4 linked regions of the Homo sapiens genome follow. The protein of the gene in region 1 interacts with the protein of each later gene in a pairwise test. Each region holds a gene or a part of one and is shown in the gene's direction. Other genes may lie near its edges.

Evidence for each region.
Region 2: the proteins of TSPAN2 (region 1) and FKBP7 interact in binary tests that used the Homo sapiens proteins (3 or more experiments, as listed by UniProt).
Region 3: the proteins of TSPAN2 (region 1) and VSIR interact in binary tests that used the Homo sapiens proteins (3 or more experiments, as listed by UniProt).
Region 4: the proteins of TSPAN2 (region 1) and SLC30A8 interact in binary tests that used the Homo sapiens proteins (3 or more experiments, as listed by UniProt).

The regions. Positions count from the first base shown.
Region 1 is NC_000001.11:115,046,612-115,052,888, reverse strand, and holds the end of TSPAN2 (tetraspanin-2), read left to right. Parts: intron 1-2,333; coding exon 2,334-2,399; 3' UTR 2,400-4,878; downstream 4,879-6,277. UniProt on the Homo sapiens protein: May play a role in signalling in oligodendrocytes in the early stages of their terminal differentiation into myelin-forming glia and may also function in stabilizing the mature sheath.
Region 2 is NC_000002.12:178,462,139-178,469,859, reverse strand, and holds the end of FKBP7 (peptidyl-prolyl cis-trans isomerase FKBP7 isoform a precursor), read left to right. Parts: intron 1-74; coding exon 75-208; intron 209-3,928; coding exon 3,929-4,090; 3' UTR 4,091-6,196; downstream 6,197-7,721. UniProt on the Homo sapiens protein: PPIases accelerate the folding of proteins during protein synthesis.
Region 3 is NC_000010.11:71,770,521-71,777,806, reverse strand, and holds the start of VSIR (V-type immunoglobulin domain-containing suppressor of T-cell activation precursor), read left to right. Parts: upstream 1-4,286; 5' UTR 4,287-4,367; coding exon 4,368-4,449; intron 4,450-7,286. Other genes in the region: CDH23 (cadherin-23 isoform 1 precursor), read right to left, coding at 1-127.
Region 4 is NC_000008.11:117,137,044-117,146,327, forward strand, and holds part of SLC30A8 (proton-coupled zinc antiporter SLC30A8), read left to right. Parts: intron 1-9,284. UniProt on the Homo sapiens protein: Proton-coupled zinc ion antiporter mediating the entry of zinc into the lumen of pancreatic beta cell secretory granules, thereby regulating insulin secretion.

The DNA.
Region 1 (6,277 bases):
TTTCCTCGTCTGTTAATATATAAACCTTATAGGATTGCCGTGAAAATTAAATGGGATACTACATATACAGTAGTATTACAAATTAATATAAATAAAGTGTCTGGGACATATAACACTCAACAAATGCCAGCTCTCTGCATAATCTACCAGGCAAAGGCAATGGCATAGATGGTATTAAGCGTAGTGCATCCAGACCACCACCAGGTGGCTCTGTACTTCTAAAGTACAAAAGAAGAGTGTGTGGGAAGAATGGATAGCAGCGGACAGGTATGGCAGGAGTTGCGAGAGGTGGTAATGGAGAGAGTATTCGATCTACATCATTGAGATCTTTGTATGCCCCTTTGAAAGGGTGGGCTTCACCCTTAAGGAAAGGGGAGTCACCAAGAGTTGGAAGAACCTGTGGTAGAGGATAGAGGAAAGGTTGGAGGGAGGCAAGATTGGATTTGGAAGGCGGGTTAAAGGATGATTTCCATTGTCCAGGGGTTGGATGATAATAGCTAATGCTAAGATGGCACTTAGTCTCTAGCCCTCTATGTAGATTAATTCATGGCCTAAACTAAGGCAAGGGCTGTGGGAATTGTGAGGAAATCAGTGAATTTGCAGTTATCAGGGGACACACAAGCGCCTTCCCCTTTTCTGTATTTAGAGCACAGAGGGGTGGAGAAGTGGCTGGAAATACTCTGCTGAGGCCCTCCAAATCAAGGGACATTTCTCAGGTCCTCCCCACCTGCTCTGGGGATAGCCTGGCTGCAGTTCTGCAGCTCCCCAAAGGACAGTCCTGAGGCAGGTCTGAGCGTGTGCTGCATAATGGAGAGTTTCACAATCTCAGCAAATGAGCAGCCTAGAAGCATTCACCCCTGACTCGTGTCGGCAGTAGGCTGAGACTGAAGGAGTCTCACTGAAACCAGGATGGGTAGGGATTACATCCAACCTTATGGCAATGATAAAGGGGAAATGCCCATAGTGAGCCTATCTTGAGTCGGCACCCCCAGGTTTCTTCGTTAGTTCTTTTCTCTGTAAAGTGAGAGTTGCACAATGTAATCAGCTAACTAAAAGTGCATTGGGTGTCGCCCGTGCTACACACTGGTACTGAGTCCTGTCATCCAGAAGCTTGAAATCCTGTTCCTGGCCATGCCCTTACCTGCTTCTGCCCCTCCCTTTTCAAAACAACTGATCATTCATATCTTATTGAATTTAGCACTTACAGATCCTAGTCTGACTTAGGATGGAATTGAGGAGAGAACCAGAAAGTTATAGTACCCATTTTTTAAAATAAGCATTGACAGTAGTTTATGGAATGGTGCCCACAGATAGGGTTCCATGGGCTCTACAAAATTGTAGGGGAAATAATAGCGGACAAGAAGACTCTTTGGCATTCTTCTATTCAAACCATGGAAGTGGATATTGATTTCACTCAAGTATTTAACTTCTCAGAGAACTATCCAAAAGGTAAAAGTCAATAATACCATAGTATAAACCCTTTAGTTTATGTTTTGCTAAAACTATTGAATTAAACAGTGAAGCATCGTTTGCCCTTAAAAATGGACTGAGAATGAAGTGATGCTCCACTTTTTTTTTCTTTTTTTGTGAGACAGGGTCTCTGTCACCAGGGAGTGAAGTGGTGCAATCACAGCTCACTGCAGCCTCGACCTCCTGGGCTCAATAATCCTCCCGCCTCAGCTTGCCAAGCACCTGGGACTGCAGGGACACACCACCATGCTCAGCTAATTTTTGTATTTTTTGTAGTGACAGGGTTTCACCATGTTTCCCAGGCTGGTCTAGAACTCCTGAGCTCAAGCGATCCTCCCACCACAGCCTCCCAAAGTGCTGGGATTGCAGGCATGAGCCACTGCACCCAGCTGATACTCCATTTTTGGATGTATGGACACTGTTGTAAAAAATCAGAGCTTTTCCAGCAATAGAAAATTATTTAGACCACAAGCATATCTAAACAACAAGTGGTTATGGACACAGTTTTCAAAATAAACATATAAAAGAGATCTAGGATTAACCTGAAATATAAAATTCCAAAGCCAGTATTGTGTCTGTCTTTCACAGGTATTCAGAACGGTTCTATAATTCTGAAGCAGGGTAGGTTCTTTTAAAGCAGAGCCTTGTTACTTGTTAACAATAATAATACACATTTAAACAGTTAATCTAGAATTATTTACCCCATAGCCAACCTTAAGTAACATACTAAAATGTCATTTGTGACTGGTAATTATTGGTTATAATTATTTGTTAACTTGAGTTAGACACCCAGGAAGTCTGCTGAACTTTTTACCTATCAGTACCCGTTTCAAAGTCACTGATGAGTGTTTCTTCTGTTTCAGATCTTTGGCATGATATTCAGCATGGTCCTCTGCTGTGCGATACGAAACTCACGAGATGTGATATGAAGCTACTTCTACATGAAAATTGCAATCTAAAGCTTTCATACCAAATGTCACAGGAGCTGTCTCCCAGCTCATTTTTAACACTGAAATGACATTAGGATCTAAAATAATTTGCTGTCAATTGTACATTTGCATGAGTACGTATGTTTGGCTCATTACTGGTTTACCCCTTGAGTGAATGCCTGTTTATGATGACTGAGAGCATATTCATGTGTGATCTGCGTGTTTCTGGAATATGCTTTATACGTAATGAAATCTGTTTGCTGGGAATTCCTGATTCTTGTTATATAAGAAGAACAACCTATTTCGCTCCCAGAAAAAAAAGATCAAAGAGCTTTCAGAAACTTTGAGAACTTGGCTATTTAGAAAAAGTGATAATGGGTCAGTTTCTCAGACTGTAGCCATTGAAAATTAGATGCAGAGAATTCAGAGATTTCTTCTTAATGGAAGTAATAAGCTGTAAGAATTGAGAGATCACAATGGAGTGTTAAAACTGACTGTGTCTAAGTTGGGTGTAAGGGTTTCCTGGGTTTTTTTATATACATGCTCTCCCCAGAATACAGTAAACCACAGTTTTAGAACTAAACACATCTGTAAAACTAAATATAGCATGGAAAATCCAATTTGAATAAGTCATGCTTTCCTAGAATTTAAAAATAAAAAAGTCTTCCTCTGGAAAGAGAAGTCACACAGACAATCATGTGCCCTATAAAAGTGAGTGTTTATAGGACTAAAAAACTTTTAACAACTTTTTAAGGAAATATTTTTGTTCTTATACAAAAACATGTAAATATTGCTTTATTACTTTCATTTTCTGACCCTGCTGTAAACTACTGCAACCCTCACATCCTCAAAGGGACTTTTATGTCAAACTCTTCTGTTTCTCCAAATATAAGGAAAAAAGACTAAAGCAAGAGATCTGGCAGTTGAAAATTGTGGGAAAGAGAATTTGTATGGGCACTGTATCTATGAAATACCTCATAACTTACGTTTACATGTTTTCCTAACTTTTTGTATTTTTCTTGTATAGCCACCTAGAGAATTCTTCATAGATTAAGAACTACAGTTTTCACCACTTAACATAAGTAAAACAAAGTCCTTCATAATTTAACCATTAGCATCTTTGGCCAAACCAAAATAAAGAAAAGCATCTTCTCCTAGTTGTGTGTGGGCAACAGAAACAAGTTAAGGAAACAAAAATACTTATATATACACAGAACAAAAATAATGTTCTTTTTATGCAAATCCCCTGTGAAAATAAAATTTTCAATGTTTTTTTGGTCTTAACGCTTCATTTTAACTTAGTAAACCCAAATTTAGGATTTACATTGGCAAATTTTTCAGTGATTTTTAACGTGTTACATTTAGTAAACCATAGATTTTTTAAAAACTACATTTTGTAAGGCCACACATAAGTGAAAATACGGAAGGCTTTGGAAACCCCCAGATGAACTTCTATACATGTGAAAACACAAGTCTTTGAGTGTGCACTAAAAGTGTCACACTCCCAAAAAACTCACAAAACATTTTGCTAAAAAGATATGACTGCTTGAAATAGTCTCTCTCCCATGGAGAACCACATTTCTCTTTCTGCCATACTTGCTACTGCTACTGATTTTGGAGGAAATTTTTCTAGAAGAACAAAGGTCATATTTGAGGCAAGCTAAAAACTTAATTATACATGGCTACTTTACTGTGTCTGTAGCTAAAGAAAAATTATTTTACAAAAATTACTTCATGAAATATAGTTTGTACCCCAGTAGTTGAGAAATGTGACCTTTTAGGCAAAGAACAGGCAGTCCATCTCTCTTAGCTTTAGTTTATCTCTCTGCCTGAAGACAGGAAACAGGCCCAAGTGCATACTCGGGTTCTTTCCAACTCAGAATCATCTCTGATTCCACAAAAGTGAGTTTAGTTTCCTATCTGAATTAACAACTTTAAAGGAGACTATAATAGTTAAAAGTGGAAGAATAGAAATAAATAAATTTAAAATGAAATTAATTAAAGTAGAAGAGAAGGGTTCTGTTCCATGTACGATTAATGTGCCCCTTTTGGAGATAAGCTTTCCAAAATATGCGTATGAGTAAAATTAGAGAATTCCACCACTAAGCAACAATAGATTTTATATGTGTGTGTGGATATATATACACACACACACAGAAAGATGAATATATATATATATATATCTGTATAGACACACATATAATATATATAGATATATAATCCCTATATATCTTGAATCTACAAATATCTTTATATGTATATAATTTGAATATATACATGTATGTATATACAGATGTGTGTGTATATATATATATACATACACATATACATAAATTTTCAGCTATTTCTGTTCCCCTGAACTAATTTGAGATTAGACCCAAACATGCTTTTAAATGTCTCATGCCAAGGCACTGAATTAAGACTTCTTAATGTTGAAATATTTTAAGTGATTTCATATTAAATTTTCTATATACTGAAATTGCTTGTTTGATTTATCTTAAAGTCCTATTATATCTTTCTACAAACCTTCACGCAACTTATCTAAATGTCAAACTACCAATCAAATAATGTGATTAAAAAAAAACAGAGTGGTAACCCTTCTATAATTTGCTATTGGTAGTTGACTTAAAAGCAACACCCTAAGGACTCTTACTGCATATACAGTCATCTGTCAGTATTCATAGAAGAATGGTTCCAGGACCCCCTGTGGATACCAAAATCCACAGATGTCCAAGTCCCTTGTATAAAATTGTGTAGTATTTGCATGTAGCCTATGCATATCCTCTCATATACTTTATTTTTTTAATTTTTATTTTTTTATTGTTACATAATAGTTGTACATACTTTTGGGATATATGGGATATTTTGATATTAGCATACAATGTGTAATAACCACATCAGGGTAATTGGGATATCTATTACCTGAAACATTTATCATTTCTTTGTATTGGGAACATTCCAGATCTTCTAGGCCTTTTAAAACATATAATAAATTGTTGTTAACTATAGTCACCTTATTGTGCTACCAAATATTAGAACTTATTCATTTTATCTAACTGTATTTTTGTACCCAGTAATCAATCCCTCTTCATCCCTCCCTGCCTGCTACCCTTTCCAGCCTCTGGTAACCACCATTGTATTTACTACCTCCATGAGATCAATTTTTATAGCTCCCACATATGACTGAGAACATGATTCATCTTGATGATATTTGTCTTTCTGTGCCTGGCTTATATCACTTAATATCCTCCAATTCTATGATGTTGCTGCAATTGACAGGATTTTATTCATTATTCAGCCATTGTCATGGCTGAATAATATTTCATCGTGTATATATAGCACATTTTCTTTATCCATCTGTTGATGGACTCTTGGGTTAATTCTGTATCTTGGCTATTGTGAATAGTGCTGCAATAAATATGAACATGCAGACATCTCTTTGATATACTGATTTTCTTTCTTTTGGATATATACCCAGCAGTAGGATTGCTGAGTCATATGGTAGTTTTCTGAGGAACCTCCAAACTGTTTTGCATAGTGGCTGTTGATTGTTTCCTTTGTTGTGCAGAAACTTTTTAGCTTGATGTAATCCTATTTGTCAATTTTTACTTTGGTTGTCTGTGCTTTTGAGGTTTTACCCCAAAAATATTTGCCCACACCAGTTTCCTGAAGCATTTTCCCAGTGTTTTCTTCTAGTAGTTTCATAGTTTCAGGTCTTATATTTAAGTCTTTAATACATTTGAATTTTGTGTAGGGTGAGAAATAGGGGTCTGGTCTCATTCTTCTGCATGTAGATAACCAGTTTTCTCAGCACTATTTGTTGAAGAGACTGTTCTTTCCCCAGTGTAAGTTCTTGGTGCCTTTGTCAAAAGTGAGTT
Region 2 (7,721 bases), on another chromosome or scaffold:
GTTATGGCAGTTCATGAATAGATATTTGAACTATATCTTTACATAAGTTAAACTGTTAAAATTTATACCCTTAGCAGAAGGCAAGATTCCACCGGATGCTACATTGATTTTTGAGATTGAACTTTATGCTGTGACCAAAGGACCACGGAGCATTGAGACATTTAAACAAATAGACATGGACAATGACAGGCAGCTCTCTAAAGCCGAGGTAATTCAAACCAATTTCATGTGTATAGTCTAATTTTTTTATCACAGTTTAAATACATCTGTGTTACAACTATTACTTTTTAGGTCTAGCTAGCATGGGCTCTGATCACTGCTTTTATAGAGCTGGTCACTAAAAAATAATCTAAGCGCTTAGAAAAAGCTCTAAGCTTTTTCAGTATAAACCTTGTGAGTCATCCTGTTCAATTGCCTTTCTCCCTGCAAGAGAGTCATTAAAATCCCGAATTATTTGTCTCTACAGTGCTCTTCCAGTTTCTAGATTACACTAGCATATCTCTTTTTCAGACAGCACTGTAAGAATTTGCAACAGGGCAAATAATTCACGCCTCATAGGATGATGAAAAGAGCTAGCAAGGGTCTGAATTGAGTGGGCTAGAAAGTTGGTAAACAGGAGCCAGAAGTTCAGCCAGCTAGCGTCTGTATCTCAGCCTTGTAATAAAGATCTTGTAATAATAATGATAATTGGGCTGGGCATGTGGCTCATGCCTATAATCTCAACACTTTGAGAGGCCGAGGTGGGAGGATTGCTTGAGCCCAGGAGTTCAAGACCAGCCTGGGCAACACAGGGAGACCCCCGTCTCTACAAAAGATTTAATAAATTAGCCAGGCATGGTGGTGCATACCTGTGGTCCCAGCTACTCAGGAGGCTGAGAGGTAGGAGGATCGCTTGAGCCCAGGAGGTTGGGGCTGCAGTGAGCTGTGATCATGCCACTGCACTCCAGCCTGGAAGATAGACTGAGACCTTGCCTCCAAAAAAAAAAAAAAGATAATAATAGATAACATTTATTTTATACTTTTAGTACCAGGTACTATTTATAAGCACATAAGTATGTGAACTTATGTAATCTTCATGATAGTTTATGGGGCAGACACTATTGTCATCATCTTCGCTTTTAGATGGGGAAAATAATAATCAGGTTAATCAGCCAAAAATCACACAGTAGTAAGGGGCAAAACCTGGGCAATCTGGCTTCATGACTGTTCTTACATTTCAATTTTTTAAATTTTTCTTAGAGACAGGGTCTTTCTCTGTTGCCCATGCCAGGGTGCAGTGAAGTGATCATAGCTCACTGCACCCTTAAACCCCTGGGCTCAAGCGATCCCCGCAGCATGCCACCATACCCAGCTAATTTTTTTTTTTTTTTTAAGAGATGGAGTCTCACTACATTGCCCAGGCTAGTCTTGAACTCCTGGCCTCAAGTGATTCTCCTTCTTCAGCCTCCCAAAGTGCTGGGATTACAGGTGTGAACCATCATGCCCAGCCCACTACTATATTTTTAACTTTGGGCCTAGACTGCTTCTTTCAGAGAAAATCATGAATGTTTCAAGTCTAATACTATTTATTGAATTCTAATGTCTTACTTAGTCCCACTGACGATACTCCTGCTTAAAATTAGTAAACCAGCTGTCTCCCCTCTTAACTAGTTAGGAGACATTTAAAAATGTGTAACTCTACCACATAAGTAAGTAGTAAAAGCTAACTAGGTTGATTTCAAGTAATAAAAATAAGTCTTTTTCTCTGTTTCTTTTTCATCTCCCTCTCCAATCCTTTCCCCACCCAGTTCAACTTCTTACACCAGGATATTAGTAATGACTTTCCCTTCAGGCATCTTGGTTGGCCAACAGTGGAAGAAGGAGAAGGGAACATGTCCTGTTCTTAAGAAGAAGGGCAGTTACCGGGGTGGCAAATGGTTCCCAAAGTGTACTTCTCTATTGACTCCTTATCACCCTTTTTTAGAGTGAATAGCAGCTGCAGATGAATTCGCATAGTACCCAAGAGCTCAGCCTATGCACACAGACCACTCATTATCACAGGCACACCAAGAGCCACGTTCTGCAGTATGAATACTCCTCAGTAAGACATTAGATGATCTTAAGTTCTTTTCTGGAAAATAAAAATAGAGAAAATCCAAAATAGTAATCTACTTATCTACAATTTCCCCAGATGTCTATGTGATATCAGCTGCTTTATTGCCAGATGGATGAGAGTGATTTTCACTAACTTGAATAACAATAGCTGTCTTTTATTGATGGCCATAATCATTATTCTAATCCTCATATCAATCCTACAATATAGATACTTACTTATCTCCTTTTACAGATGACAAAACTGAGGTTCAGAGAGGTTAATTTGCAGAAGACCACACAGCAAATCCAAGACAAAGCCTGAAGTAGAAACACGAACTAAAAAAACAAAAACAAAAACAAACAAACAAAAAACTTTATTCATTGTCAGAAAGATTAAGTAAACTATTTCATCAGTGTACAGGAAGGAACATTTAAAAAAGAAAAAGAAAAACTTTCTTTAATATTAATAAAGACGGAAAGGACGGGGGAAATACAGTATTTTATTAAATTAAAAAGTGGAAATAGTGTGGAACCCATTACTAGCAAAATTAAGGTCATGTTCTTACCCACTGTCTTTTTGTACCTCTGTACTGTAGTTTACTGGAAAAGGAGTCAAGTTTAAGCATCAGCAATATTGGTTATGTAAAAATAATTTGACTTACTTAGAAACTGAGAAATATTTGAAGGTATTAAAAATTGTTTACCCCTACATAGGATTGCTAAGCTTTGGCTGGAAGAAAAAAATGTGTCTGCCTCATGTAGGACCAAAGTCCCATTTGAGAACAGTTGATGTATCCTTCATTAAGGTCCACTGATTGCTCTAAAATAAAGTCAACTTGCAATGGGTTGACCCTGGGATATGTATTGCTAAAAACCTCTCAAACTCTAGCTTTCAAAAATACTCTTGCCTCTATAATGCCAGCCTTACTGAACATTACCTCCAGATGATTGTGCATTGCTTTCTTTAGTTATTATAAGGATTAGTGCTTTCCAAAGGAAATACAATTGTTACACATATAATTTTAAAATTTTTATAGTCACATCTTAAAAAGTAAAAAGATACAGGTGAAATTAATTTTAATGTTATATCTTCACTCAATATATCTATAATATTGCCATTTCAATATGAGATCGATGTAAAATTATCAATGAGATAACTTTTTGAAGTCTTCAAAATCTGTTATATATTTTATATTTATAGTAACATATCTCATTTTGATCTAGCCATGTTTCAAGTGCTCATTAGTCACATGTGGCTAGTGGCTACTATATTGGACAATACTTTTAATGTGTGTTTGCATATAGAAATTTTATATAATTAGTGAATACTTCAGGATTCTTTATTTGACATTATTAAAGAGATTATTATAGTTATGTAGACTTGGAGGAGAGCTATAGAAGCATAGAAAAACTTAAAATACTAAATTTTATTTCAAACCCCATGGTTGTGTTTTATTGATTATACAACATATTCATTAGTTTTAGAGATTATAGAAATGCCAATTGGGTTTCTTTCACTAATGGCAGTCATGCGTGATTTTCCTTTGATAATAGGAACAGCATGGATTATTAGAAAGCATTTAGTTTCAACAAAATTCAGTTTAAATATTAATCTTCGAGTATGTACCACTAACCATCTATCATCTTAGGGAAAACTAATTTGAAGACCTGTTTCTCTCCAAAACATTGCTTCAAAGAATAAGAAAAATAAAACCTCAAATAGCTTTTCATACTGTTGTATCATTTACTGTAAGTAATCTTGCACATGAGTTTCATTATTATAACTATTCCTTAAAGTTACTGGAAATTCACTGTGATACCTTTTAATTAAAGGAATGTTATTTTGGCCTTCCAGATAAACCTCTACTTGCAAAGGGAATTTGAAAAAGATGAGAAGCCACGTGACAAGTCATATCAGGATGCAGTTTTAGAAGATATTTTTAAGAAGAATGACCATGATGGTGATGGCTTCATTTCTCCCAAGGAATACAATGTATACCAACACGATGAACTATAGCATATTTGTATTTCTACTTTTTTTTTTTAGCTATTTACTGTACTTTATGTATAAAACAAAGTCACTTTTCTCCAAGTTGTATTTGCTATTTTTCCCCTATGAGAAGATATTTTGATCTCCCCAATACATTGATTTTGGTATAATAAATGTGAGGCTGTTTTGCAAACTTAACTTGCAGGAATGGTATGACTGTGTTTCCTACTGCTTTATTCTGTAAACAAGAATTGTAGCACCATGAAACAGACCTCTGGGTCCCAGTGGGCATTTTTTCCCCTTTCAGGATGTAGGAGGACATGTATAGTATGTCAAAAACTGCAAGCTTTTCCCAACTTTAACCTTACCAGCATGTTAATATCCAGTTTTTTTATAGTTTAAAAGTTAAAGTGCCTCATATTTTGAAAATATCCATTAAGGACCCAGGAATTAGCATTTCACTTGTTTATACATTTTTATAACATTATGAAGACGATATAAAAATCCTAGAACTGAAGAGTCTTCCTTTGGTATATGTGCAGGAAGATAGTTGTATATCTCTGTTCCACAAAGAACGCAACACAGTCTCTAAACTTTTTGGTGTAAGCTTCTAGCCTTGGGTATTTTCCAGTGGGGAATGTTTAAAAATATTTGACCAAACCAAAGACTTTTTGCCTCTTATAGCAAGCATAAAGACTGTACTGCCTGGCTTTTGTATTCCTTCAGACATTATTGTAAATGTGCAACTCCTCTTCCCTCTTGTAAACCTTTATAAGATGTCTGCCACCCCAAGCTTTTGTCTTGATAGTTTTAAATTGATGCCATGAAATTTCTTAGTTTTCGTTCCCTTTCTCTAGTTATCTCTTTCCTTATGTCACCTCATTTCCCATCATTCTTGTCACTAATGATGAATGATCATTACAAATTGGTATGCTGTCAAATTTTGATAAATGTGCCAAACAAAGGAGGATATACAGTGCCATGGCAATTTTGTGTCATGGTCAAGTTATGATATCATATGACTTGAGAATAGTATGTAAGAGATGCTGTAGAAGATCACGTTGGTACCAAAGAAAGGGCACATGTCTATCGGAACATAGATTTTGCATACTGCATGGTATGGTCAGGCTTTGTGTCCACACCCAAATCTCATCTTGAAATTATAATCCCCATAATTTCCATAATCCCCACATGTCAATGGAGAGACCAGGTGGAGGTAACTGAATCATGGGGGTGGTTTTCCCCGTGCTGTTCTCATGCAATCTGATGGTTTTATAAGTGTTTGGTAGTTCCTCTTGCATTCATTCTCCCACCCGCCACCTTGTGAAGAAAGTCCTTGCTTCCCCGCCTTCCACCATGATTGTAAGCTTCCTGAGGCCTCCCCAGCCATGGGGAACCATGAGTCAATTTAACCTCTTTCCTTTACAAATTACCCAGTCTGGGGCAGTTCTTTATAGCAGTGTGAAAATGGACTACTACACTGCATATATAGGAAAGTATGGTCAGACAGTAAATAGCTCTGTTCAAAATAATTGAGTTCCAAACAAGTAAAGTTTTTTCTACCTTCTGAAACTTGCTCTTTCCAAACCATTGTTCATCCTTTAACTTCTTTACACTATCAAAAATTCTATTTAAAAATAGAGGGCTTTCAGATGAGTACATACAAAAACAAACAAAAGTATACATAGGGGTAACACAACCATGAGATTAGTAAATAATACATATGGCTAGCACATAATTTGACACCTTATAAAACAAGAATCTGTACTATCTTTTCCTTCCTCCCAATATTTCTTCATTTCTATGCTCAATTTTCTAATACTTTTTCACATGCTTAATCATTTACTCTTTCATCGCCTTCCCTCAAAAAAACCTGCTCCGTTGAAGTAAACTAAGTAACTCAATATTCTTTATTTTGGTTTGGAACCTGTCTCAATTTTTTGTATCCATATTAAGAAGTCACCCTATAATCTAAACTTTGTAATTCTAATTTTTTTGTCCCATTATCATACAAAGTGCTTTTAAACTTGTTTTTAAAAAATGACAGATAATGCCACATGAATAGGAAGATGATTCATTCTAAAACTTGTATTTACATAATTAAAAATAAATTTATAATCATTCTACATACAATACAGTGTACAAGTATTTCATATATCTGCATGATTGCCTTATGCCTTCATATGCATATATGTGGCATTGAGTGCTGTGACTACATTTTGAGTTCTAGAATTTTTTTTTTTTTTTTTTTTTGCAGGTGCAAGATTTAATAGAGTGAAATAGAGTGAAAACAGAGCTCCCATACAAGGAGGCGACCCAAAGGGGGTTGCCATTGCTGGCTGGAATGCCTGGATTTATATCCTGATCCTTGTCCCTCCCGCTGTGCTCTCAGGCAATAGATGATTGGCTATTTCTTTACCTCCTGTTTTTGCCTAATTAGCATTTTAGTGAGCTCTCTGATTGGTTGGGTGTGAGCTAAGTTGCAAGCCCCATGTTTAAAGATGGATGTAGTTACCTTCCCAGCTAGGCTTAGGGATTCTTAGTCGGCCTAGGAAATCCAGCTAGTCCTCTCAGTCCCCACTCTCAACAGGAAAACCCAAGTGCTATTGGGGAGGTTGGCCGATGACTGCTCTAACTGCTTCCTGCTGAACTGGGGCATAGGAGGGGTTGTGCAGCTGAGATTTCCTTGGGAGGGGTGCCTTCGATGTCATTAACACCAGAGCATGGGCTGGGAGACCGGTCCGGGGGTCTACGGTGGATCTTAGTCATGGACTGCATCTGGGGCTCCATTTGATGAACCATTTGTAGTTTTACAGTTTCAATTCACCTTGGAGGTCCCTTCGTGGTCGCCAAAGTGTTACCGGGGGTCCTTGCTCCCAGAGCTCCCAAGAAGGTGGTGGGCGACTTCCAAAATGGCGGCAGGCCACTTCCAAGATGGTGGCAAGCCCCGTGTTCTCTGACCTGGGGTTGTTGGCCTCACGGATTCCAAGGAATGGAATCTTGGGCCATGCAGTGAGTGTTACAGCTCTATTAGAAGTCATGGGTCACAGAAAAGAACCGTGGAACCCAGTGACTAGTGTTCAGCTCAATTAGGACGAACCCAGGCACTTAGCCGTGCAGGAACAATGGCAAGCCTTTAGCCTGATCAGGAGCGGCAATGGGCGCCTCACTGGATCAGGAGCACAGCGGACACCCTGCCAGATTCAGAGGGATGGGAGTCAGCAGCGGGTCTGTGACGGTGGCAAACAGCAGTGGTGGACGGCGAGCAAAAGCTCAGCTCGAGCCTTAACAAACATGGACCAGAAGAGTGCAGTTGCAAGATTTAAGACAGTGAAATAAAGTGAAAACAGAGCTCCCATTCAAGGAGGGACCCAAAGGGGGTTGCCTTGAGTTCTAGAATTTTAACATTTTATTCATTTTATAATTATTTTAATAAAGGTAAATAGTAATTTAGGTTGTTTGTGTATGAAAAATTCAGATTTCTCAGCAGAGTAGATTAAAAAGATCTTTCAGAATTGAATATGTTAAATGTTTTAAACATTTTCAAAGAAACAGATGTGTCTTACCTGTCTTAACTTCACAATGACCGTATTGCGTTTTATGAAGACAAAACTCGTGAGCATATCCACATCATAGAATGGCAGCCCATTACTACTAT
Region 3 (7,286 bases), on another chromosome or scaffold:
GGATGGTGATGAGGCTGGTGTTGAGCGTGTCTGGGCCCTCATCCAGCAGCACCTCATAGTGGGGCTGCTGGAACATGGGCGCGTTATCATTCTCATCCACAATGGTCACGTACACGTGCGTGGTGGCCTGTGGAAAAGAGTGGGTCACGTCCTTGGTCAGGTGGCCAGAGGGACCAAGGTGGATCCAGATGGCTGTTCTCCTGGGCTGAACTCACTCCATGTGACTCAAACAGAAAGGGCAAGGAGAAGAAAGCAGGGGGTGGGTCACAGGCTGGTAGAGAGAGAAAGCTCAAAAACTCCACCAAAAGCCAAGTAAGGTAACTGCTCTGTCCAAGATGGCACTGGCACCACCACTCCTATGTCTGCGACCCCCAGCAGACATCACTAATCAATCACAGAACTGCTGAGGCCAGATGCAAACTTGGGATCCTTGTTAGCACAGTGGTCTAGTGATTAAGACTGGCATATGGGATGAACCCTGGTAGTCACCCCAGCTCAGAGCTTTACGAGGGCCTGTGTCTTATTGAGCCTATATGTCCTGCCAGACTACAAGAGGCAAGAATGTGAGGCACTCGGCCCAATGCCATATTTAACCTTCATCTATTGTTCATGTAAATGAAAGAAATACATATTTTCAGCATTTCCAGAAGGAGGACATTGGGTTTGTGGCAATTTCGTGGGCAGAACTTGTTGACCTGTGAAAAATAAGACTCACAGAACATAACTTCATTCCAAGAACAGCTTCTACAACATACTCTCCTGTGATCGGCCATCTCTGCCAATGCTTGAGTCAATTGGACCACAAGTAATATTCAGCTAATCAGAACTCGGCAATCAGCACTCAAGAATCAACTAGAAATGGTTCTTGCTCCTGCTTCCTGCCTTTCTCCACCTGGGAAGATGTCCCCTGTGGACTAACTGCCTTACCCTGGCTCCCTTGCTATCCAGCTTCCTGCTGGGTGTGGCCAATGGGAGGCCCTGGCTGAAGATGAAAGCAGTGGGGAGAAAGAGGCGGGGGTGTTTCTTCCACACTCCCTCCATTCCTCACTGCGGTTCTGCCCATGGCTGTGTTTCTCCTGCTTGGGGACAGGGGTCCCCCTTTCATAGCACCAGCTTTCACTGGGCTCCAGAACATCACTTCCTCTTCTTTCCCTTTGGACATGTGAGTGGTAGTGGCTTCCTGTGGTTGGTGCTAGTCTCTGGGTGCTTTACCAGCCTTCCTAAACAGTCCCTGTATTAAACTCTCTTCAGTTGAACCCTTTCTGAGTGTGCCATCTGTTTCCTGCCAGGACCCTAACTAATACAAATCATAATGAGTGACTAATATAAAATAATAAGGTGTTAATCACTGCAAAGGTGTCTGGGTAGAGAGAACGTGACTAGGCCATTGCCAGGCCAGAGAACAGAAAGCAGGTGGTACAGACAACTCAATGTAGGCAATTTGCATATGGTTTTTTCCTTGGGACTGGCTGGCTCTGGAGCTACCACTGGAAGAATGGACAGATGGGCAGGGGATCTGGACCCAAGAAGGCTGTCACTGCCCCTGAGGAGGCAATGATTCCTCTGATATGCAGCTCTGGATCTTGGGGGTGGAGGGCATTGGGTGTTTGCTGAAACGGTTTCCAAAGCAGATAGGGTTGGCAGCCTTGAAAAGGAGCTGCGTGGCCTTGGGCAGGTCACATCCCCTCTCTGGACCTTTTCTGTCTGTTTAATAAAGGACCTGGCTTGATTTCTAAAGTTGTTTCTAGCTCAGGGAGTTTGGGAGGTGAGTTTGGGAATGTGGGAAATGTCAGCATCCCCTCCCCAACAGGGAGGCTGGAATTCAGCCCCTTTCCTGCAATGTGGTGCTCTTGTATTCTTGCCGGCAAGTAAGGGGACTCAGGAAGGCTCAAGGCTGGGCCCCTCACCAGTAGAGAGTACTCACAGCTGCCTCCAGGCCCTGCAGAGCCACAAGATGGACATGGTGGCTTTCCTTGACAGTCATCTTTATTCGAATATTTGGGGCCTTCACCACTATTTTTAATGAAAACAAGCACAAACACATGATGGAGTGTGCAGGCTGCAGGGGCTGGGAGTGGAGAGTTTGAACAGAGTTGGGCCTTGGAGCCCCTCCTGCTCTGAGACCAGGTCTGGGCTTGGGGAGGGAAGGTGGGTTTGACTTCCTCTGGTCTCGGAGGGAGGAGAAAGTCAGTGCTCCAAAGGCCCTCTCAGCTGAGCCCTTCCTGTCCTGCCCTGGTGTTGAGGAAACAGTGCTTGAGGTTTCTGGACCATGGTCCTTGGGCAATGCCTGTGTCTCACCCTGATGCAACCCCAGGAGGCTCAGTGGTGGGCAGTGTGGTAGGGAGAAAGGAAGTGAAAAGGGGGGAGGGAACTGGGCCCAGCTCAGAGGCTCTATCCCCCTGGGGAAGGGGTTGGCAGGGCAATTGCTCCCCTTTCTCTAATTCCAGGCCCTCCCCGGCTGCTAGGCCCTGGGGAAGAGGGAGTCTGGTTTCAAGGGTGTCCTGAGCAAAGCCAGTCCAGGAAGGGTTGAGATGGGGTGGTGCTCTAGGATCTTGCCCTTAAGGGACCCCCCTCACTTGCCAGAGGATGTCAGGGTGAGAAGGGCCCGGTGTCCACCTGATCTCAGTTGGCTTTGTACCTCCCCTGGTGGAAGGGAGCTCATGCTATGCCAGCAGGAAGGGCCCTGGGCTGCCTTCCAAGGTGGGGTCACAAGGCCAGGAGCATGCCCAAGGACCTGGGTTATGTCCTGCCAGCCTCTGGGGCTCCCATCCTGGGGAGTTCACTGGCTCCAGGGGGACTGGGCCTGCACAAGTTCACTTAGTAATAACATGATGCCTCAGCCTTCCTCTGTTGTAGCCTTCCCTGCCCTTAGAGCAAGGGCTAAGGGCCTCCAGAGAGCCCGTGACTTGGATCAGGCCACCCACAAGGCCCCCAGGACTCCTGGCTCCCATTGAGTCCTGATACCCTGGTTCCTGACCCAGTCAGACTCTGAGTGTCCTCTGCCTCTCAGCCTAGGAGTCACCTATTAACCCAAGATCCCTAAAGTGCCAGAAAAACCCCTGGAAGCTTCAGCTAGACTGGGGTAAACTGAGTAAAATGGCTGTGCTCTTCCACTCCTGTGATCCCTGGTCCTGGCCACGATCACCTCTGCTCCTCCATCACACAATCACTCACTCACTCATTGGTTTGTCCATTCAGATAAAAGTGCAGTAAAACCTTCTCCACGCCCAGCTTTGTGCTAGGGTCTCAGAAACATCAGAGAGAGGTTTGTAGTTTCGCTCTGGAGGGCAGAACAGCCGGAAGAAGAACCAACTGCTGGTTATCTCAGGCTGGAGGTGGTAGCTGAAGGGGGTGTGGACAGTAAGGATTTGCCGGGAAAAAGGAAGGGTCAGGACATTTCGTGAAGTGGGAGGACTTGAGCTGAGCCCTGAGGGATGAGAAGAATTAGGAGGGGAGAGACATTCCAGTGGTGCCAGCAGTGCTGGGTGTGGGTGCAAGAGCAGAGGCACTAGAAGTTAGGGTGCATCAGAGTGTCCTGCAGATATCCAGGCACCAGGGAGGGAGGGCGGGTGCACAGCCAGGCGGACAGCTGAGGCCTCTGCCGGAGGGGAGCTTGCAGGATGTGCTGTGGGGCACGCCAACAGGTGTTGCCTGCATATCTGTGTGTGTCCCGGGGTAGGGATGTGCTGATCTTGGCGTGTAGTCCTGCACCTGTTCTGTGTGTGTGTGTGTGTGTGTGTGTGTGTGTGTGTGTGCGCGCGCGCATGCACTCAGGGTGCCTCAGGCTCTGAATCTACAGTTAAACTGGCTCCAGCTTGCCTAGCTCTTCACAATGTCAGATTTCATTCATTCACTCATTTACTCACTCATTCCACAGCTGGGAGTGCCTACCACATACCAAGCCCTGGTCTGGCTGGAGGATGTAGGGTACAAGTCTCTGTCCCCAGATCACTCAAAGGCTGGTGGCTGAGGGCAGATGCAAGCCATGGTAACGTCTATCACGCTGTTAGAGGTAGATCTACTTCTTAGGCTGCGCAGCAATAATAATTTCTCTCCAAAAGGACTGGGGGACGGTAGAACGGGCTTTAAACTGCCGATCAAGTGGAGCTGACTCGCTGGGACGCACGCTGGCTCCCCACCCACGGGGCCGGCCTCCGGGAAGCCCCTCCCACGCGGCCCTCGGAGAGGCAGTTCCCCCACACGGCCCCCCGGGGGCGCTGCGCGAAGGGGGCGGGTGCCTGGAGCACGGCGCTGGGGCCGCCCGCAGCGCTCACTCGCTCGCACTCAGTCGCGGGAGGCTTCCCCGCGCCGGCCGCGTCCCGCCCGCTCCCCGGCACCAGAAGTTCCTCTGCGCGTCCGACGGCGACATGGGCGTCCCCACGGCCCTGGAGGCCGGCAGCTGGCGCTGGGGATCCCTGCTCTTCGCTCTCTTCCTGGCTGCGTCCCTAGGTAAGGTCGGGGGAGGCGGGGCGCTGGGAAAAAGCTGGGAGAAGACAGCAGACTGGAGTGGGAACTGTGGGATGGGGGCGTCCTGGGGGCCCTCTCAGCCTGTGTGACCGTGCACCCCACTCCACCCACCGCCCAGAGGCTGCTGGGACCCCTAGGCAGGGTGCAGTGGCAACTGTGCCAAGTGCCCCAGCTAGGCATCGGGCACATCTGCATGCTCTGACAGCTGCCCAAGTGGCAGGCAGGGCTGTCCCCTGAGGGCTGCCTGTCCAGCCCTTCCCTGCCCAGAGAACCCAGGGCACAGGTAGCTTCTGCAAAGAAGGAGAGGCACAGGGTGGGGGCGGTCAGTGTGTTCTGGTGGATATCACTGGCTTTTGACAGCTGGCATCTTTCTGCCCCTCTAGTCTCAGGGCTCTAGTGTTGCAGAGGACACAGAGGGCGTGGTATGCTCAGCCAGTGCCCCATGCCCTGGTGAAACCCCTGGCTGAGCCTTGGTGGGCACTGGGCACTGGTCACGGTGGGTCCACTTTCAGACACAGAGGCAGCACTGCCCACCTGGTCCCTATTCTAAGGGTCTGATGGCCCAGGAATAAGTGGTCAGCTGATTCCTGCCATCCTAGCAAGGCTGCCACTCAGGGACCAGTGTGGAGTACTGGGGAGGATGTGGGACACTCTTCAGCTCAGCTATGAGCCCCTTCTGGGTCCCTGGATAAATTACGGCATCTCTCTGGCCTCAGTTTCCTCAGCTCAAACACAGAAGCCCACACAGGGAAGCACCATTTTCCCCTTCCAAAGTCCAGACTGTCAGCATGTTCAGATAGTATCCTGGCCCCAACACAGGGGCTCCCGGGCTGGGGGCAGAGGCCCTGGTACCCATGGCCTGGTTGCCTAGTTCTTGCCTGCCCAGAGCTGAAGAGGCTGGATCTCTTCAAAGAGCCTGTGGAACCAAACTTTATAGGGAGGGCCCAGGGAAAGTATGAGTCATGCAGGGACTCGGAGGGAGGCAGGAGGGAGGTGGAGGGCTTGGCACAGGGACCCAGTGGGCAGGATGGAATAGAAGGAGAGGGTGATAGGATAAGAGGGAGAGGAGGAGGCTGAACCTGGAAGATACCTTAGCAACCTGGGTGCCCACAGGCAGCTGGCTATCTCAGCACTTGGAGGCTGGCCTGGGCCTCTGAGGAGGAGGAGGGCTCCACATGTCACAGACACAGCTGCCCTAAGCCCCAGGGTGGATGCTTCTCAAGGTGACAGTCAGAGGGAGGAGGAGAATGGGAGGTGGAATGGACAGTCTCAGCACCAAGGCCATGGCTCATGGCAGGGCATGGCTTCCAGAAGGAACAGAGGATGGTGGCAGGCAGGCAAGCCAGCATCCCACCTGTCATGGGCCACCTGCCCTGCACTGCCCTCCCTGGTGGCCCTGTGAGACCCTTCCTGCTTTCTTGCCCACTTCCTGCCCTCACTTGGCTGGGCTGCCCTCTGTTCAGCAGCCCCAATTTGAGAAACATTTCTAGAGATCCAGGGCACAGGGACCCAGCTTGCAGAGCACCCAGTAGCAGAGAGGCCCCAAGAGGAGCTCAGGACGCCTTCCCCTATATTGCTTATATGGCCAGGGGCCTTTACTCCCAGAGGTCTTGGCTACTCAAACAACATGGTATACTAAAGGGTCATCTCTTCCTGGGCCCAGCACAGGGAGATGATTTAGGCTGGCTGCAGCTTTCCACTGAAAGGAGCCAGAAGCATTTGAATTGCTCTGGGACCTCAGGATTCTGAACTGTGACATGGACACACTATAATAGATATTCACCCAACTCCCTAGGACAGTGTGCACTGAGGGAGATAGCAGATGGGAGGCCTGGTTGCAGGCATGGTCAGCAGGATCTGTAAGTTGAGAAGATTGATCACCAGCCTGCCGAGGTGCTGGGTTGCCCTGGGTATGTTGCCCAAGGTCAAAGCCTTTATGCCAGGGAAAGTGAGATAGAGTGGCCGGGGCCAGCCTGTTCTCCAGCTCTTGGGGTTGGGCCAGCACTGAGGAGAATGGTAGTGATGAATGTGGTGTTCAGAAGCCCAGGAAACACCAAAGATACCCCTTTCCTGGGCCTGACTCAGGGTGAGATGGGTGGAGAGGTACACTTAGGGACCAGGACCCAGCAGATCTCAAGGGTAGCAGAGCCTCTTCTTCCCCACAGACATTCCCAGGACCCGAGGCAGTTACTGTCCTTGCCCTGTCCTCACAGGCTGACTCAGGACTCCCAACCTCTGGGACTAGCACATTTAAGTGCACTGGGGCTAGGGACGAGAGACCCCATCTTCTCCTTCATAGCAAACCAGGCTGCAGGGCCTTGTTGAGTAACCCAGTGCTGCAAGCCTCTGACGCAGCAATGGTCAGCTCTTAGGAAATCCACAACCCACTGCCCAGAGGCTCTGGAGTAGAGAGGAACAGCCTTGAGGCCAGTCCCTGGCATGAGGGGTCATCTACCCAATGCCAGGGACACCCAAGGGCCAGCAATACTGGGAGTCCCTTGCTGAGCTGTACTAGTTGTTCATGCTTCCACCCAAGCAGGGCAAAGGTTCCGCTGGGGTCTGACCTTCCTGGGAGAGGGTGGTCCAGGCAGGAGTGTGCTGCTGAGACGCTAAAGGGGTCACCTCCCTATCCGCACACAGTGTATGGGGTGTTAGGCCTGAGCAGATGAAAGGAAGAAAGGGATCCTCAAGGAGAACCCGTTGGCAGTGAGCGAGCCCCACATACCAAACTTGAGGCCCCAGGCTTTAGCCAACCAATGACCCAGGGTCAGTCTGGTCTCCCAGGGGAGGGTGGGCCAGGGATCAGCACTGTGGCTTCC
Region 4 (9,284 bases), on another chromosome or scaffold:
AGATGGCTAATTACAACAGAACTGGGCTGTGGACCCAGGCCCCCTTCTTGTTAATTTAGTGTTCCCCTTCTCCGTCTACATCTCCTGTACCCATACATGCACCATGTGGGCTCCTGAATCCTTAATCTATCTCCTCCTTAGGTCACATGTCCCTGAATTCCCTCACTTACTCACTTCTTCCCCCACCTCTACCAATCTATCTCATTTATTTTGTTCTGTCTCTATTAGTTGTGGATAACTTTATCCCCTGATATTCCTCCTCTTTTCTCCTTCTACCTCTTTTTCTTTCTACTTTCTATTATCAGCTTTCTATTTAAATGGTTACTGGCTGTTAAGAAACTTACTCTGAAGAAAACTTTATTATCTAATTCCACAAATGGAGTGTTCCATTTATCTATGGCTGTGCAACAAACTACCCCAAGATGTAGTGGCTTAAACAACAACTATTTTATTACGATTCTCTGGGTCAGGATTTGGGCAGCATTCCATGTGAATTAGTTGGAATAGAAGGCTGCATTCTGCTGGTATCTGGGCTAGGCTAGAAGGTTTAAGATGGCTTCACTCACATGACTGAGATCTTTGTGTTGGCTTTTGCCTGGGGCGGGGGTCTTAATTCTTCTTCCCATGGCTTCTCTCCCTGTATGATGTCTCACTTTATCTGGTTAGCCTGGAATTCCTTATGTGACAGTCCAGAGTAGCAAGAGAGCAATAGTGGAAGCTGACCATTCTCAGATAGCTTAAGCCCAGAACTGGCACAGTATCATTTTTATCACAATTTATGGGTTAAAGCAAGTCCCAAGTCTCAGATTCCATGGGTGAGGCAATAGATTCTATCTCTTGATTGCATGTGCATATTGGATGACAGGAATTGCTGGAGGTAATCTTTACAGGCATTTTACCACAGGAAGTAGTAATATTGGACCCAGTAGGTGCCATGAACCATATTTTTTTACCCTCTCCATTCTCTCCAAATCTGTTTCATTGGTGGGATTCTCTGGGCTTTGGGTTCATTGTAGCAAAAAAAAAAAAAAAAAAAAGAAAAAGAAAAAAAAAAGTCGTGTAAAGTTGAACTACAACACGAAAAACAATCAATGTTTTTCTTGGTGCTAGGTGGAAGGGATCAAGTTTCTCTTTTCCCCAAGCCATATGTTGAAGAAGTGCAGAGGAAGTAAGGGCAGGAATAGATGGTAGAGGTAAACTGCTAGAACCTTTACAACAACTATTTAACTGCTAAAAATTATAAAAAAGAAATGAAAATCTCTGGAAGTTGTCTTAAGGGCATGCAGAAAATTAATAATTATTTATTCAAGAAAATCTAAATCTCAGTAAGAAGTGAGCGTCTATGGCATTTGAGCCAAGATCTGCTCCATTAACCTCTGTTCTTCCCAAGCTCAGTATGATGAGAGCTCAACTCTGAGTGGATGTAGCCAAAAGACTGGGCTCCCTCTCCTCCCAGCTTCCAGTTAAAGATCATAGTTCACCCCTAGAGCAAAAGGCTGTTGGAATCTCTTATTGTCCCAGCTTCAGGTTGCAGAAATTCTATTCATTGTAGACAGGACCAAGAGGACTATGGTTTCCTTCCTCTACCCAGCCTCCTCTCATAGGGTATAATCTCTAGCCCAGGAGCAGCAAGGTCCTGAATATCCCTGCCCTGGATCACTCATAGTGTATAGGATGTATTCCAGGAGGCATAAGCAAAAAAGACTAGGGACTACGATCCGTATTCAGTGCTCCACTTGTGGAGCAAGAGTATTGCTCCAGGAGAAGTAGGTCACTGTCTCTTCTGCCAGCTCTGGTGCAGTGGTGTAAAGGTACTACTCATAGGAGAGGCAGGCCATAAGAATAGAGGGCTATGTATCTTTCCCTTAGAAGACTGATGATACATAAGCTGGAATTTTATTTGTAAGACAGCATAGGGTATTTCAAGCATAGGGACACTGTTGAAAACAATGAAGATTCTTCTGGTGGACAATTAAGAGTAGGCTTGTTGCTTCATGATAGCAACAAGATAGTGGCAGACCAGCTAGAAGTTAAGCAAAGACAGGCAGAAAAAGAGGTAAAAAATGCCCTCTTGGATTTGGCACTAGCCACAAAATTTGGCCTCAAATATTACCCCTATAAAGAAGCCTGTTATAGATTGAATGTTTATGTCCCCCACAATTATATGTTGAAGCACAAATGCCAGTGTGGCTGTATTTGGAGATAGGGCCTCTAAGGAAGTAATTAAGGTTAATTGGGGTTATAAGAGTGGGGTCCTGATCTGACAGAATTAATGTTCTTATAAGAAGAGACTCCAGATAGCTCACTCTCTCTCTCTTTTTGGGTGCACACACTAAGGAAAGACCACGCGAGGAAGTAACGAAAAGGCAAGCATCTATTAGCCAGAAAGAGAACCCTCACCAGTGAATTTGCTAGCAGCTTGATTATGGACTTCCATCCTCTGGAGCTGTGAGAAAATACATTTTTGTTGTTTAAGCCACACAGTCTGTGGTATGTTGTTATAGTAGCTGAAGCAGACAAATTTAATTGGATCAGATTGTTGGTCAATTCATACCTCAGGGTATTATTGAAAACCATAGAGCAACAATTCAGCAAACAATTAAGAAGGCCAAAATCTGGGTGTGATACCAACACAGGCAGAACAATCACTTAACAGTGAGATAGTGGAAAGAAACAGTCAAAGTGAACACTACTAAAATGATTATTATCCCTTGGAAATGGGAGAGGATAAGAAAGACTGCATCTACCCAATGATGCACCTTCTGAGGAATGGCAACAGAGGCTGCGCATGCAGGGAAAGTCAGACAACATCTGGTAAAAAAAAAAAAAAAAAAAGTAGAAACAGTCCAGGTGTTGTATTTAGAATTTGAATATTTCAAAACAGCTATTATAACTAGGTTAAAAGAATTAAAGAAAATCAAAGAACAAAGAATTAAAGATAGATATGATTTAAAATGTCTCATAAAATTGAGAATATCAATGAAGAGTTAGAAATTATTTTTTAAAAAAGAACCAGATGAAAATTCTGAAGTTGAAAAGTACAATAAATGAAATTAAAAATTCACTAGAGGGGTTCAACAGTAGAGCTGTACTCATAGAAGCTGGCAGAAGAAAGAATCACTGAACTTGAAGATAGATTGGAAGATATTATGCAACATGAAAAACAGAGAAAATAGAATGAAGTAAAAAAATCAACAGAGCCTCAGAGAAATGTGGTACATTGTTAAATGCATTAACATATTCATAATAAGAGGGCCAGAAGGAGAGAGAAAAAGGAGCAGAAAAACAGTCAAAGAAATAGTGGCCCCAAACTTCTGAAGTTTGTTGAATATTAATCTACACATTCATGATGGTCAACAAACTCTAAGAAGAATCAAGCAAATAGATTTACATGCTTGCACATTACAGTAAAACTATTAAAAGCAAAACACAAATAAAAAACCTTGAAAGCAGCAAGAGAAAAAAGAAAAGATTCATTATGTATGAGAGCATCCTGATCAGATTAACAGCCAACTTCTACCAGAAGCAAAGGAGGATGGCAGTGAGATGACATTTAAAGCTGTAAAAGAAAAAGAAATTCCTATCAACCAATAATCTTACATCTACCTAAACTATATTCCTAAAATAAAGATGAAATAAAGACAAACAAAATCTAAGATAATTTGTTGCTGGATTCACTTTACAAAAATCAGTAAAGAAAGCAATAGTAAAGGAAGAAATATTAAAGAAAACAAATGACACCAGATATTAAGTTGAATCATTCCTAAAAAATAATAGCACCAATAAAGGTAATAATGTGGGTAATTATAAAAGACAAATGATTTGTTCTCCTTTTTCCTCTTAACAGATTTAATAGTAAACTGCATGAAATAAAATGTATATAATCTTAGATGAAATGGATAAATTCATAGAAAGACACCGACTACCATATGAACTTAAGAAGAAATAGAAAATCTGATAAGTAAAGATATTGAATTATTAATAAATTTCATAAAACCTTACACAAAGAAAGCCCAAGTCCAGATGTCCTCACTGGTGATTTCTACCAAAATTTAAAATAGAATTAATATTAACTCATCACAAATTCTTCCCCAAAATAGAAGAGGTGTAAATACACTTCCCAACTCATTTTATGAGGTCAATATTCTGCTGATAGCAAAAAAGGAGGAAATATCACAGGAAAATAAAACTACAGAACAATATCCCTTATGAATACAGATGCAGTAATCCTTGAAAAGACTAATGAACTGAATCCAGCAACATATAAAATTACGAACAATGATAAAATGGGATTTATCCCAGTAATGCAAGCTTAATTTAACATCTGAAATACAAAGTGATACAACATATTAATAGGATACAGAACAAAGCTCACATGATTATCTCACTAGATGCAGAAAACGAATGGACAAAATTCAACACCCTTTAATTATATAAACACCTGTGAAACTAGAAATAGAACGAAACTTCTTCAAAAGCATCCATGAAAAACTTGCAGCTCATATCATAATTTTTTTCAATAGGTTTTTTGGGAACAGGTGGTGTTTGGTTACATGGATAAGCTCTTTAGTGGTGATTTCTGAGATTTTGAAGCACCCATCACCTGAGCAGTGTACACTGTACCAATGTGCAGTCTTTTATCATAATTATGGTGAAAGCCTGAAAACTTTCCCCTAAAATCAGGTACAAGATAAGGATGTCCACTTCAATGAGTTCTACTCAACGTGGTACTGTGTGTTCTAGCCAGAGCAATTGGGAAGACAACAAAATAAAAGACATTCAGACTGGAAATAATTTAATAATCTGTGCATTCATCTTGTTCCAGTTACACTTTGAAGTGGTTTATATGAATTAGCTAAAAATCTCTCAAGCAGCCTATGAGAGTGATGCTATCATTATTCCTATTTTCAGATGGGGAAATTGAGGCACAGAGAGGTTAAGTAATTTTCTTACAGTCATATGACTAGTGAGTGGTAAGGGTGGGAGTTCAACTGAGGTGGTGGGTTGCCAGAGCCCAAGCTCTCAGCCTCTATACTGCACTGCCTGCCACTCAGCCCCATCTTGGGAATTGGCATGCCCTTCTCCAGGTTACTCTAACCAGAAACCAACAAGTCATCTTTGAGTTGCACCTCTCTATTATTCCCCCTTAACTACTGTTATTTATTAGCAAGTCCTATTGACTCCACCTCCCAAAAGTCCCTCAAATATGACTACTTCTTTCTATTTTTATTGTCACCACGTGGGTCAAAGCCACCAATGTGTTGGCTGTAGTCACCTCCTAAGGGTTTCTATGTTTTGATCTTTTACACTCTAGTCTTCCAGGCAGCACCCAAAGTGATCATTTTAGAAATGTGAACCATGTAATGTTACTTCCCAGCTCAAAACTTTCCAAATTTTTCCTTTTAGACCTTGAATTAAATTAAACTCTTTATAATGGCCTGAAGTGTTCTGCAAAATCTGATCCCTTTTTTGACCTCTTTATATTTCACTCTTTCTTTACGCCACAGGGGACACCTATGTAGTTTTCTTTCTGTTCAAGACAAGCACTTGAACAAGAAAATCCTTCTTGTCTTTGGGCATTTGCTCCAGCAATGCCCTCTACTTGGGATAGCCTTCACTCACATAGGTTTTCTCCTGGTAATTCTATAACTTGCTGCTGAGATATCACCTCCACAGCGGTGCCTTTCCTTCCCACACAATTTAAGGTAGTTCATCTTCCCTTGCCTTCTCACCATTCATCATACTATATAGCCTCTGTTACTATTGATTCATTTACTCTTTGTCTCCCTCTACTAAAATACAAGATCTTTAAAGAAGGAACTTTGTTTTTCTCATACAACATGGTATCATTAACACTTCTGATGGTGCAGGCCCTTTTTAGGTATGCAGTAAATATTTAATGATGAATGAATGAAATGTTAGACATTCATGGTGAGGCTGAAGCTTTTATCTCCCCTTCTAACAGGAATAGTGATTTGAGGTTCTTGGGAAAATTGATATGAAAGTACAAAAGCAAAGTGATTTTTATGTGCTCAACATTTGAAATAAGAGGATAAAAAAATACAAATTTTACCAACATTATTTTGGAGATAGAAGCAAAGTTCTACCACTCAACAAAAAAACATTAAAAAATAAAAGCTTCTCCAAGATTGCAAAAATAAAGTCCCATTTTCTAAATCCCATTTTTGGAGATGAAATCAAAGTTTTAGAGTACTGGCATCAAATTTTCTAATATTTCTGTACTTTTTCATCTCTTTTTCTCCGTCTTTTTTCTCTTTGATGCTACAGTAAATTTCTTTGGCCTATTATTCCTAATTTTTAAAGCTTTGGCCATATTTGAATGCATGGGAATCTTCCAGGATTTATTCATTAACAGCAGATTCACAATTCAGTGTTTGTTGCATCATAGCATTTGCTTTTTATAACTTTCTTCTTAAAATAATACTTAAAATTCACATCATTGTTCTGATCAAGAGCCTGTTCTGCATCTAGAGATACTTAGATGACTTGACTTTAATGAGATGATAAGGAATATATCTTAACTTTGGTTTTTAACTTCTTTGAGGTCACAGGCTCTTTTGGGAGCCAAGTGAAGACTGTGTACTCTTGCCTCTCCCATAAAACACACACACACACACACACACACACACACACTCACACATGAACACATCGTATACAATTCCAATGGACCTTATGAAGCCCACTTTTGGATTTCTGGCTTAGTTCTTCAAGGAGCAGTCTCAGCTCAGAGTATATCCATATTTGTTAACCTTAGAACCCAAGACAGGGAAGCAGTACACAAAAGTAAAAATTGCCCACATTTTCACACTTTCCTCCTTGTGGCATTGCTCAGGGGCTTTTCTCCAGGTTTGATTCTTGCTTTGGACTGGCTTCTGAGCTGCTCCAGGATAAATTATCTCTCCTGGTCACTGACTACTTGGCTTTCCCTGGTCATAAGATTCATGAGAAACATAAAATAAAGCAATGCTTCATATGACCACAGCATACCAGGCAGTTCCAGAACAATTGGTGAGCCTGCTTTGCTCATGCTGTCTTCTCAGCCCAAGGAAACAGTAAATCTCAACAATGTGTTCAAGTTAGTACTCAGGTTCCTCTGAGATGATGGCCACTGGGGACCCAAACTACCAAATTCTGTGGTTATTATTAGGATATTATACATAACAAAAGCAAAAGTCTACTCATTTAAGATATAAATACTTTATTTGTTACTTTCCAAATTGTTCTTATTCCAACTAAGAAGATTGTTTGGAACTACTCAAAATCCTGAGTGCTATTCACATAACTGATAAAAAACCAATGTTGTAAATTGGCTTTAATGTATATTCCAAAGCCAGTTTGGCAATATATGTCAAAATCCTTAGAAATGTAGGTACCTTTTGACCAAGTAATTTCCCCTTTAAGATTCCACTTTAAGGAGATAATATATTGAGCAAAGATTAATTATAAGGATGTGAATCATAGTAGTGCCTATATGAGCAAATAATTGGAAAAAAATGAGTTGTCCAATAATTTAAAAATATTAGTTAATTATGCTATGATATAGCTATATTAAATATATACTGCCTTCCATATTTTAAACATAATGATATAGAAAATTTTATAAATGGAGAAAATATTAACAATATTGATAGCTGAGAATCAGGTTCAGAATCTGTATCTTTGGTAGGATCCTCTTGTGATGCAATCATCTTATTCACATCCATTCTAGCGCTTCCCCACTGAGGAGCAGCCCTGTGGTTTAGGTAGAATTTTCCCTATTCTCAGCTCTATGAGTCAGCATGGCTGGGTTTTGCCAGTCTTCTGAGTATAATAATGCCTAAGTCAATCAGCTCATCCATATTCCCCTGGCTATAGTGGTTGTTTCTCATTTAGCTAAATCCACATGCACATCAAGACTGTTGTGTAGCAGTTTGAGAGGGGATAATCTCTCTATGTATCTGTTAAAAAAGAAATACATAGTTTGATTACTTTTGGCAACCATCCCACTACCATGGGGAAGATCAGCTTGAGGTTGAAGAATAGCTGAGAGCCACAGAGAAATGAATCTGGAGACCTCGTCAAAAAGTATCTGAAACCTGGCCCCTCTAGATGTTTTCAGTTGCAGAACCAATAATTCTTATTTATTAATTATTCTAGCAAGAGTCTTGTTTTCTGTGCTTATAACCTAAAGCATCCTAATTAATATGGAATCTAATTATGTAAAAAATATATTCATATATTACAAAGCTACACAATAAAATATCAATAATAATTGTCTCTTGGAGAGGATTACCAGTTATTTTTCCCTCTACTTTGTGATTTTTTTTTGTAATCCAGATTTTCTATAATGAATATATATTATTTTATTCAGAAAAATCAAATATAATAATAGAGTCAGAATAATAATTGTCATCTAAGCCAAAACCATCAGACTTTTAATTGTGAATGGTGATAGGCTAAATGAAATGAAGTGAAAGCTAATATATTGTTAGTTTTGTTTGTTTGTTTGTTATTACCTTTCAGAGTCAGGAATGCAAAGTTCTTAATTCCAAGACTCTTATTTATTTCTGTACATGAGTTTATTTTTAAAAATTTAAAAATCTGATTAGTTCAAGATCCATGGATTTTGACATCTGCCTTCCTGACTCAATATTAGGACACCTAAAATTGGTTTTAGGCATGACAGAAGAAACACTGAGCTTGGGATTCCCACTCCAAAATTTCCTGGATATTTGACCTCAGGCAATTACTTAAACTTCCTGAACCTTAGTTACTTCAGCCAAGAAATATGGGGTTGCAGTTAAGTGAAATAAGCCAAGCACAGAAAGACAAATATCACATGTTCTCGCTTATATATGGGAGCTAAAAAAGTGGCTCTCGTGAAGATAAGAGAGTAGATTGGTGGTTACAAGAGACTGAGAAAGGTAGAGAGGAGGAAGGTATGAAGCAAGGTTGATTAATGGGTACAAATGTATGATTTGAGAGAAGAAAAAGATCTGGTGTTTGATAGATCTGTGAGATGACTATAGTTTGCAATTATCTATCATATGCTTCAAAATAGCCAGAAAAGAATAATTGAAATGTTCCTAGAATAAAGAAGAGAGAAATATTTAAGGTGATGGACATCTCAAGTTTACTGATTTGATCTTTAAAAATTATATGAATGTATTAAATTATCACATGTACCCTAAATTAGTTATATTTATTATGCATCAATAAAAATTGTTTTAAAAAAAGAAAAAAGGGGTTAGACCAAATGTTATCTACCTTTCCATCTGTGAAAT